Linked DNA regions of Homo sapiens. The protein of the gene in region 1 purifies or fractionates together with the protein of each later gene. This does not show direct contact. Each region holds a gene or a part of one and is shown in the gene's direction. Other genes may lie near its edges. The genes, in order: SIGLEC9 and NCAM1.

What was found.
Region 2: the proteins of SIGLEC9 (region 1) and NCAM1 purify together in Homo sapiens (affinity purification with mass spectrometry; 3 studies listed by BioGRID and IntAct, with this or other methods). This does not show direct contact.

What each region holds. Positions count from the first base shown.
Region 1 is NC_000019.10:51,127,900-51,131,101, forward strand, and holds the end of SIGLEC9 (sialic acid-binding Ig-like lectin 9 isoform 2 precursor), read left to right. Parts: intron 1-49; coding exon 50-140; intron 141-514; coding exon 515-611; intron 612-900; coding exon of another isoform or gene 901-1,095; exon of another isoform or gene 1,096-1,142; intron 1,143-1,991; coding exon 1,992-2,180; 3' UTR 2,181-2,411; downstream 2,412-3,202. UniProt on the Homo sapiens protein: Putative adhesion molecule that mediates sialic-acid dependent binding to cells. Preferentially binds to alpha-2,3- or alpha-2,6-linked sialic acid. The sialic acid recognition site may be masked by cis interactions with sialic acids on the same cell surface.
Region 2 is NC_000011.10:112,957,263-112,964,420, forward strand, and holds the start of NCAM1 (neural cell adhesion molecule 1 isoform 2 precursor), read left to right. Parts: upstream 1-4,157; 5' UTR 4,158-4,350; coding exon 4,351-4,402; intron 4,403-5,947; exon of another isoform or gene 5,948-6,198; intron 6,199-7,158.

The sequences.
Region 1 (3,202 bases):
ACCCAATTCTCTATGATATATCACAAAAATAACTCCCATCTGTCAACAGGCAAAGCCACATCAGGAGTGACTCAGGGGGTGGTCGGGGGAGCTGGAGCCACAGCCCTGGTCTTCCTGTCCTTCTGCGTCATCTTCGTTGTGTAAGCATGGACCCTAGAGAGGGAGGGAGGGAGAGCCCTGGGGGAGGACAGGCTGGAAGCTGGATCCCTGAAGCCAGAGCTGGAGGGACCTGGATGGGTCAAGAGCTTGGGGCAAGAAGGAGGTCACAGGTGCATGGTGAGAATTCCATGTGGGCCTGTGTTTGAGGAGCTTTGAGTCTGTGGCAAACCTTGGTACCCACTGTCCAGGAGAAGAGAGCCTCTGTTCTCAACCTTGGGGTCTCTAAGACTGGACCACTGCTTTCCCACCTCAGTCACCCCTGCAGTCCCTTAATAGGAAACACATGGGGGTACCTGGTCTGCCCACCGCACCCCAATCTGACCACACTGAAAGGCTCTCTGGTCTCTTCACTCAGAGTGAGGTCCTGCAGGAAGAAATCGGCAAGGCCAGCAGCGGGCGTGGGAGATACGGGCATAGAGGATGCAAACGCTGTCAGGGGTTCAGCCTCTCAGGTGAGTGATGTGGACTCTCCACAGCCAGCATGTAGCCTGGACACCTCCCACAGGATGACCCCCAGGACTAATCAGCTGGGCGTAGCCAAAGTTACCTCCTCTCTGTTCTTCCTTTCTTCTCTGTAGCCCCAAATCACAATGTTTGGTTGGTTTCCTCCCCTAAGAACAGCTTTTATTGTCTCTGCTCCCTATCCTGACCCTTCATTGCTGAGGCCTGAGGATCTCTGTCTTTTGTTCCCTCACCTGTCTGCCTGTCTCCTCTCCTTTCCTGCCTGGGGGGACTGTCCAGAAGACATCATCGTCCAGTTCCTCTGCATTTGAACAGCTGTTCCCCCACCCCTCAATACCGTTTAGAGCAGAAGCCAGCAAATACTATCTGTCAGGGACAGATAGAAACTATTTTCGGCTTCATGGGCCACACAGTCTCATTGCAGCTCCTCAAATCTGCTGTTGTAGCAAGAAAGAAGCCATATACCCTGTGTAAACAAATGAATATGGCTGTGTGCCAATAAAACTATTCACAAACATAAAGAGTGGGCTGGATATGACTCAGATACTGTAGTTTGACAACCCCTGATCTAGAGTAAAAATCCCAAACTCTATAGCCTGCAGCAGTGCACATTCTGACTTTTTTTGTTTTTTTTTTTTTTTGTTGTTGTTGTTTTTGAGACAGAGTCTTGCTCTGTCGCCCAGGCTGGAGTGCAGTGGTGCGATCTCTGCTCACTGCAACTTCCACCTTCCGGGTTCAAGCCATTCTCCTGCCTCAGCCTCCGGAGTAGCTGGGACTACAGGCGCCTGCCACCACGCCCAGCTAATTTTTTTGTATTTTTAGTAGAGACGGGGTTTCACTGTGTTAGCCAGGATGGTCTCAGTCTCCTGACCTTGTGATCTGCCCACCTTGGCTTCCCGAAGTGCTGGGATTACAGGCGTGAGCCACTGTGACCGGCCACATTCTGACCTTTTAAGCACCTACCTCTCCACTAGGGCAAGAACAAGGGTGAAGTGAGTGAGGCTGTTGCCTCAAGTGCATTTTTTCGTTTGTTTGTTTTTGTTTTTTGAGATGGAGTCTCGCTCTGTCACCCAGGATGTAGTGCAGTGGCACAATCTTGGCTTACTGCAACCTCTGCCTCCTAGGTTCAAGCGATTCTCCTGCCTCAGCCTCCTGAGTAGCTGGGATTAAAGGTGCACACCACCACACCTGGCTAATTTTGTATTTTTAGTAGAGACAGGGTTTCACCATGTTGGCCAGGCTGGTCTCAAACTCCTGACCTCAGGTGATCCGCCTACCTCAGCCTCCTGAAGAGCTGGGATTACAGATGTGAGCCACCGCGCCCCATCCTCACTGTCTGCTCTGACTCACTTCTCTCTCCCATGTCTCAGGGGCCCCTGACTGAACCTTGGGCAGAAGACAGTCCCCCAGACCAGCCTCCCCCAGCTTCTGCCCGCTCCTCAGTGGGGGAAGGAGAGCTCCAGTATGCATCCCTCAGCTTCCAGATGGTGAAGCCTTGGGACTCGCGGGGACAGGAGGCCACTGACACCGAGTACTCGGAGATCAAGATCCACAGATGAGAAACTGCAGAGACTCACCCTGATTGAGGGATCACAGCCCCTCCAGGCAAGGGAGAAGTCAGAGGCTGATTCTTGTAGAATTAACAGCCCTCAACGTGATGAGCTATGATAACACTATGAATTATGTGCAGAGTGAAAAGCACACAGGCTTTAGAGTCAAAGTATCTCAAACCTGAATCCACACTGTGCCCTCCCTTTTATTTTTTTAACTAAAAGACAGACAAATTCCTACCTCTCTGTACCTTGGTTTCCTGCTCTGTAAAACAGGAATGAGAAGCCCTACTTGCAAGGTTGTGGTCACCATTCCAGGAGTCACATCCCGTTAGAGCTCCTGGCACAGGTGTATGCCGAGCACTGATGGATCGCTGTGCTTTGAACACAAAGGTCCTGCTGGGAACCTCTCCTGATTCTGGTGGCAACTAGTACTTATATGTCTGTGTCACTTGCCTGCAAAATAGCGATTCTGCAACTTTCCAGGAAATAACCTCAGCCTGCAAATCAGGTCTAGGTAGCATCTGGATCCTGCCCACCTCTTCAGCCTCATCTGCCCACCCTGTGACTGCTAGGCCGCCTTACTCTCTGCAGTCTACGTATTGTGCACAGTCCAGTGGGAATCTTTAGGACACACTGAGCTCTCTCCGCACTGCTCACAGCCCATCCATGGCTCCTGGATCCTGAACCTCCCATCACATCCTCTTCGTGACATCACTCTCCCACTTCAGTCCACTCCTCCATCTTCACCACTTAACCCACTGGTCCCTCTGGTCTTTTCCAAATCATTTGCAACATGCCCTGTTGGTTCATACCTCAGTCCTTGCACACTGGGGACCCTCCTCCTAGAACGCCCTCCTCCTGGGCCTTCTTCTGTCTCTGTCTTTGAAAATGGAGTTCAAGGATTGGACTTCTGGGTTGAGCTGAGGGAGAGAGTGAAGCAGCAGCTCATGATCTCCCTCCTCTAAAGCCAAACCCAGGGAATGAGAAACGTTTCCAAAGGGGCACAGGATCATCTGGCAAATTAAACA
Region 2 (7,158 bases), on another chromosome or scaffold:
ACTCCATTTTGCCTGTATCAATAGTGAAATAAAGTTCTTAGGGTATCTGTGAGTCCTAAGATCAAACCTGGGGTCTCCATTGTCAATAACAATAGGAAAGAAGCTCTAAATTAGGGCACTATTCCAAGTTCATTTTTCAAGTTGTGTAAGTCAAGCTAGTGCATAAGGTCTTGGTGGTGCTGAGCAAGAGTTAACACCAATTTAACTTACTTTATAACCTGATAATAAAGTCCTCACATTAAAAGAGAAGAAAAGAAAACTGTCTTTTAAGCCTCCTTCTCCCACAAGCTTGCCTCCCTGCCATTATCCCACTACTCCTTCAACATCACACTGCTGGAGAGAGTAGTCCACACCCCTGGCTTCTCTCTCCTCCCCTCCCTTTCATTTCTGGGACCATGATGTCTCCTTTTCCCTCCATTCCATGAATACTGTTCCCCCAGGGGCCACTAAGGACTTTCCAATGGTCAAATTCAGGAAATTCTTTTAAATCTTCCTCTTTTTTGACCACCTCAAAGCTTTCTTCTTTAGGTTTTGTGACATTGTCATGTTTCAATTTTCTTTCTAGCTGTCTGTTTTTCAGTATTTCATTGATAAGTCCTTCTGCCTGTACCTTAAACATTGATGTTCTCTGGGCCCTCTCTGTCTGTCTTCCACACATTTCCACTTGGATGTCTCTGAAACATCTCAGACTTAGCATGTGCAGAGCTGACATCATTGCTTCTTTGCTTATCACCTGGTCTGAATCTGCCCCTCTTCTTCTGCTCCCTGTCAATGTTACCAGCAACTATTCAATTGCCCACACTGGACCCTTAGCGGTTGTCACTTTCTCAAGATCTGTATCACATACACCCGTATAGCTCCACTAAACAAAATGGTAATCCCTCTCCGCCCCAGACTCTCTGTCCCCTTATCTCTCCTTATTGCTTTCCTTAGCACTTATCACCATCTGTACACTACTAAATGTTTAAGGATTTATTCTCTGTCTTCCCCCATAAGAAGGAAATCCCATGAGGGCAAAGGCTCTACTTTGTCCACGGCTACATCCCCAGTGTCCAGAGCAGTGCCAGGCACTTAGTTGAGAATCCATAAATATTTGTTGAATGAATGAAAGGAACTTGGATTTCTTCCTCTGCCTCATACTTCCATCTTCACAACATACCCAGGTCCACCTGTTCTTATCTTATCTTGGAATTGCAAATCTGGGCTCCTTTTTGCCTCCTTTCCCACTGTCGCTTTCTTAATTAGTCCCTGTCACCCTATCCAGAGCTATCATGGCCTCCTAGCTTGTCTCCTTGCCATGGCTGTCTTCTTGGACCATTCTCTGCTTCCTCTCTAAAGAACTTTCTCTCTAAAGCACAGTCTGGAGTCTCCTTCCTCTGCCTCAATCCCATGGATGTTCACTTTGTAGATGCTCATTAATGTGTGCCTGACAGCCTGGGCCTCTCTCTGGGGAGAGAGGTCCAGTGAGGGCCACAGTTTTGTCCATTTTAAAATGAGGATCAGGAAGGGATTGAAACGCAACAGAGCTCACAGATGTAGGCACCGACTAGCGGAGATATACAGAATTGGAGACAAGTGACATATCCTGTTAAAAGAATTTGGGAGTGATACTGGGAGTGTGGACTGGAATGACTGGGGCAGCATTCTAGAATGAATCATTACAACAGAGATCAACAACCACACGGGGTAGGGAGGGGCTGGAGAGAGAGAGGGAAAAAAAAGAAATTCAGTCATACTCAAGTGAGATTGGATTTCCACACTTGCCTACATTGAAAAGCTAAAAATAGGGACATTTGGGGAGAAAAATAGTGAGGAGTCTTTTAATTCTACTGACAGGACTATAAGGAGGGAGGTTTGCAGGGAAGAATGTGTCTCTCACTCTTAGGGGCAAAATTGGAAAAATTTTTATTTTGGGGGCCCCAACCTTCACTCTCCCCACTCTACCCCCTGCCTGTTCTCTCTATCTTTCCTCACCATCAAAACCTCTTTTTTAAGGAAAGAGTCTGATAACATTCATTTACATAAATCTGTAATATTTAATGTGGTGATTTTAGATGTTAGAAGCAGAAGTCTGAAATCAAAGACACTTAAATACAGCAACCATTAAAAAAAGACGTATATAATTCACTGCATCTAGCACAGGGCTAAACCCAGTGGTTGCTCCGCAAATATTTGTTGAAAGATGTTCAAAAAAGCCTTATTTATATTATCAAACTCCACAAACAATATAAATATGCAAAAATGGGGAAACCATTGCAAAATCATCCATATGAAGAAATATTACATAGCTATAAAAATATCTAGAAAAGCTTTTTAATGATCCAGAGGAATAAATGCTTATACTGATGTTAGGCAAAATCAGCAGGATTCAAATTGCTACTATAATATGTCAATTATAAAAATCATATGCACATACAGAAGACAAAATCTATGAGTATCTCTGGAATCTGTGGGATTTGGGGTTATTTTTAGTTCTTTCTACTTTTCTGTACTTTTGAATTGTTTATACTTGGAATGAGAGAAATAGCCCAAAGTAAACGTTGTGGAAGATTTACTTGGGGGAAGAAATACTTTTCAGGGGTCCAAGCTAATTACACTGTACTGGTGTGGCCCACTTGGTCTATTATAGAGGAGGAAAGTGGGGAAGAGATGGGGCCTGTCCAATAAGGATGGATGTCCTGACAGTAGAGGATGGACTTTTAAAAACTGCTACAGCGGCTGGGTGCGGTAGCTCACGGCTGTAATCCTAGCACTTTGGGAGGCTGAGGTGGGCAGATCACGAGGTCAGGAGTTCGAGACCGGCCTGACCAACATGGTGAAACACCGTCTCTACTAAAAATACAAAAATTAGCTGGGCGTGGTGGCGCGCGCCTGTAATCCCAGCTACTCAGGAGGCTGAGGCAGCAGAATCGCTTGAACCGGGAGCAGAGGTTGCAGTGAGCAGAGATGGCGCCACTGCACTGCAGCCTGGGCGACAGAGCGAGGCTCCATCTCAAAAAAACAAAACAGAAACAAAACAAAACAAAACAAAACAAAAAACCTGCTACAGGAGTGGGGAGGCCGACCTTTGAAGAAAAACGGAGTACCCGGTAACATTAGTGCTTTAATGCCTTTGAACTTATGCAGACTTCCTCTGTTAGAGGGTTTCAGTGTTCTAGGCTAATGGGTTAACCTGACATCTAGAACACCTTTCTCACATTAGTTCCTTACATACCCAAGCCTTCAGGTGCTGAGACATGATTCTTTTCACCCCGCTTTCTCCACCCCCTACTTTTGAAAACACGGGTGGAATTTTAATTAAAGCCTATTGTGTTGGTACCTCAGTAATATTATACATTAATATCTTTAAGAATTAAGGTCACGTCCCCATGTAAGAAAATATTATTTAATGACGCTTCTATATCATAATACCTATATAAAAGCCTGGCTATTTTAATAAAGAGACCACAGATTTCAGAATTTATAAACAGGAAAACATTTTCTTCGGGTTATTTCTGGAAATCTCTTCCAAACATCGGAGTTTTCTTCTAACTTAAGTCTCTTCCCACCTCCTTCCCAGGGGATCTGCTGAAGGGTGTTGTATGTCTCTCTGTGGGAGAGCAAACTTCACAGTTAGGATAAAACAAACAAACAAACAATATCCAAACAACACCCAGCAACGGCAACCCCCATCCCTCTCCAAAGTTCTAATTTCCCGCACTTAAAGTCCTGGGCTATCCTTGTGTTGCAAGGATCTTAGAATCGAAATGGAGGGATTTGACAACTTTACCTAACCAAATCTAAAATTTTGCTTTTATTATTTACTAGTTATCAAAATATGCAAACTGCTGATTAAGGAAGGCTGGGTAGCAGGAGCGCCTGCGAAGGCGTAGGGTAGAAGTGTGAAAAGAAATCCCAGCTCTCCCAGGGAGACTGCGTGTGAAAGAGCCCGGCTCCCCCAAAAGCTCCAGGCCGCGTTTTGCAGGCTTCCGCATCTGCCTCCCCTGTCTCTCTTACCTCCTTGATGTTCGGCACTATTTGTGGCCGGCGTGGTGGAAGGACACAGTGAGGTTCTCACCCCCGCCCCCCGCTCCTCGCTCCCATCCCAGTTCCATCAAAACGAACCCGGGCCAGCGCAAGGATCTCCGAGTTGCGAGTGTGCTGAGGCTGGGACTGTCACTCATTCTCCGATCAGCGCGTGAACGCAGCTCGGCTGCCGCTGGCAGGAAACAATTCTGCAAAAATAATCATACTCAGCCTGGCAATTGTCTGCCCCTAGGTCTGTCGCTCAGCCGCCGTCCACACTCGCTGCAGGGGGGGGGGCACAGAATTTACCGCGGCAAGAACATCCCTCCCAGCCAGCAGATTACAATGCTGCAAACTAAGGATCTCATCTGGACTTTGTTTTTCCTGGGAACTGCAGGTACATTTTTTTTTTTTTTAATTCTCAATCTGGTTTGCTAATTACCCCTTCCTCCTACTCCTAGGAGGAACGCTATTATTTTGGGTGGTTTTACGTGGACTGCTAAGGCTGGTCATTTTCGTTTAGCTGTGAAAGGAGCGCGTCGCCCTTGCTGCCCAGCCGAACCCCGCTCCCTCCAGGGCTGCGCTGCACGGGGCTGCCTCCCCGAGCCGCCAGCGCCCGGCGCCCCTCCGGCGCGTCCGCCCTTCCCACTTTGTGCGCCCGCGGCGGTGGGAGCAGAGCCGGCCGGCTCCTGGGGACTCAGCGGCCGCGCTGGTGATGGGCAGCGCTCCTTCCCCAAAGGCGGGCGGCGGGGCGGGGGAGGTCGCGGCTCGGGTGGTGCCGCCGCACGGGCTCGGATTCCGAGGGGGAAGTGGCTTGTCAGCCCCGGCTCCGGGAAGAGTGAACAATAAGGCTAGGGCAGCCGCCCCAGATCGTTATATTCCTGGGTCTAATAAAGTCAGGATCGCTGCTTTGCTTCCCCCGCCCCAGAAGAATAACGGTTTGCAAAATGGGGCAAAATGGGCAGAATCGCACGGCCGTTGTTGTTGGTGTGACCGTTGTTGCACCCCAGTCGACATGACGTTAGTTTTTCATTTGCCAAATTGCTGGTTAGTTGCAAAGCCTACCCTCGGCCGCGAGCACTGAAGGATGGGAGGGTCGAGCGCCGCGTTTTGACAGGAGGAAGTGCGGAGGGGCGGAGGGCGAGGAGGGCGTGATTGGGGCTGCCTGGTGTGTGCGCGCGCGTGTGCGCGCGTGTGTCTTTACACGCGCCGCGTGCCCAGTGTTGCACGGGGCGGGAGAAGAATGGCAGGTAGCCGCCCGAAACACCTCGCCCTGTCTCCTTTCTTTGGGCGAGGTTCCCGATCCTGGCAAAGTGTGAACAATAGGGAGCTGGGAGGAAGACAGTAGTGATGCTGCCGCGGGTGGCGGGGGTTGCGCCGCCGCCCAGAGAACCTCGGCAGTGTGCAGGGAGGTGCATTTCATTTTGGCTATTTCCATCCCGGCCTCCCTGGAAAATTCTTCTGTGCGTGCCCACCCTCCCCTCCAGCTGTCATCCCCCCACCTCCACCCAAGGATTTGCGCTTTGGCTCTGATGGACGGGAGGGAAGGAAGAAAAGCAGGGGCCGCAGAGAGCTGGGTGGGTTGGGCGGACATTCTGGGCGGGGGGCGTGTGCTGGGAAGCGATCGAGGAAAGCCGGGCGGAGGGGCTGTGTGTCGCGGTCGCAGCTCCAGGTACCGTTGTACCTGCCCTGGACGGCCGACCCCCGGTTGGGGAGCGCACGGGGCGGGCCAGGGAGCACCCAGTGCGCCCCCTCCGCGGGCGGCACAAGAGCAGCGCTCGGCCGCCGCCTCCAGCCAACTCGGGTCCCTCCCACGGCGACCAATCAGTGCGAAGCTGGCTGGGCGGGAAGCCGCGAGAGGCTTTTATTGCGGCGCGGGTGGCGGCCAGGAGCTGCCAGGACAGTCTCCCGGTGCTTCAGCCTAACGGTCTCGCTCACTCACCGCCAAGAGAAACCCCGCCCTGCGGCCGGTCCCCCGCCTGCCCGGCAGTTTCCGAGGAAATAAAATGGAGACTAGGTGGTCACCGGGAGTGCTCCTGGTCCGGCCGCCCGTGCTCGCCCACTCTCGCCTCTTTCACGCCGACTTGGAGCATCCCACCGCCCCCGCCAGCGCTCACTCTCGCGCCGCGGAATCCGGGCCTGAGCGCGTCGCCGGGGAGGGCATCCTGGCAGGCACACCTACGCGCGTGCGCTGACCGGCCGACCGCGGGCCGGGGGCTCTACTGACGGCGGGGCGGGGCCGTGGCAGGGCCCGGAGAGGAGGGGTGGGGACCAAGCCTAGTCCGCCTGGCCCTGGGTCTCCGCTGCCACCTGGGCGGGGGCCACCCCGGTTATGCCCCTTTCCGCGGTGCCCGTGGGTGCCGCGACGCGACCTGTCCACATGGGGCGGGGGAAGGGGGGTGTTTTTGAGACATCCTCGCCCCCGGGTGGGAGCGTGACAATGGAGCCCGGATATTTGGTGGGCCTTTTGGGGGATCGCCTGGCGGTCCTTTCCATCATCGTGATGGGTACAGTCATCAGTATTTGGATCCCGTGGAAGTTGCAGGCCCAGGAATTCCCACTGGGATGTTCCTGGATGCCCAGGCAGGGGAGGCATTCTAACCAGTGTTCCCTGGAATGAAAGCGACCTCTTTCCTGGCCCGGTACCTTGAGGATGGGAAGAAGGCAGAACGTGAAACACATACAAGGTTGCTTAACAAAAGAAAGAAGTTGAATGGTTTTCCAAAGAGAAATAATTTCCCATTAAAATGTCTTTTGTACCATAGTTTTTTTTTAAAAAAATCAAAGAATTCAAGTCAAAGGGTTAGAATGAAAATGAAAACATAACAACAAGTATATATACATATGTATATATATCTGAGGTTTTTTTTTTGTTTTTTTTTTTTTTGTTTTTTTTTTGGACTCAAATGTAGCATGTCCAGGGCAGTGGTAACTGAGTTTGTGTGCTCGGCTGGGTGCATATGAAAATTTACATATAAGGCAAGCTAACCTTAATACGTCAAGTGAGTCCGATGGGCTGCCCCTCTCCTCTTTCTGTGTCCTCTGCTCTTTAGAAATACAATGAAAGGTTGTGCAATTGCATAGTAAATTTGAGTTTATTCTAGTATAAATTTTGGATGTTTTGAAGAATTGTTCGCTTGAACGATCTGGAAT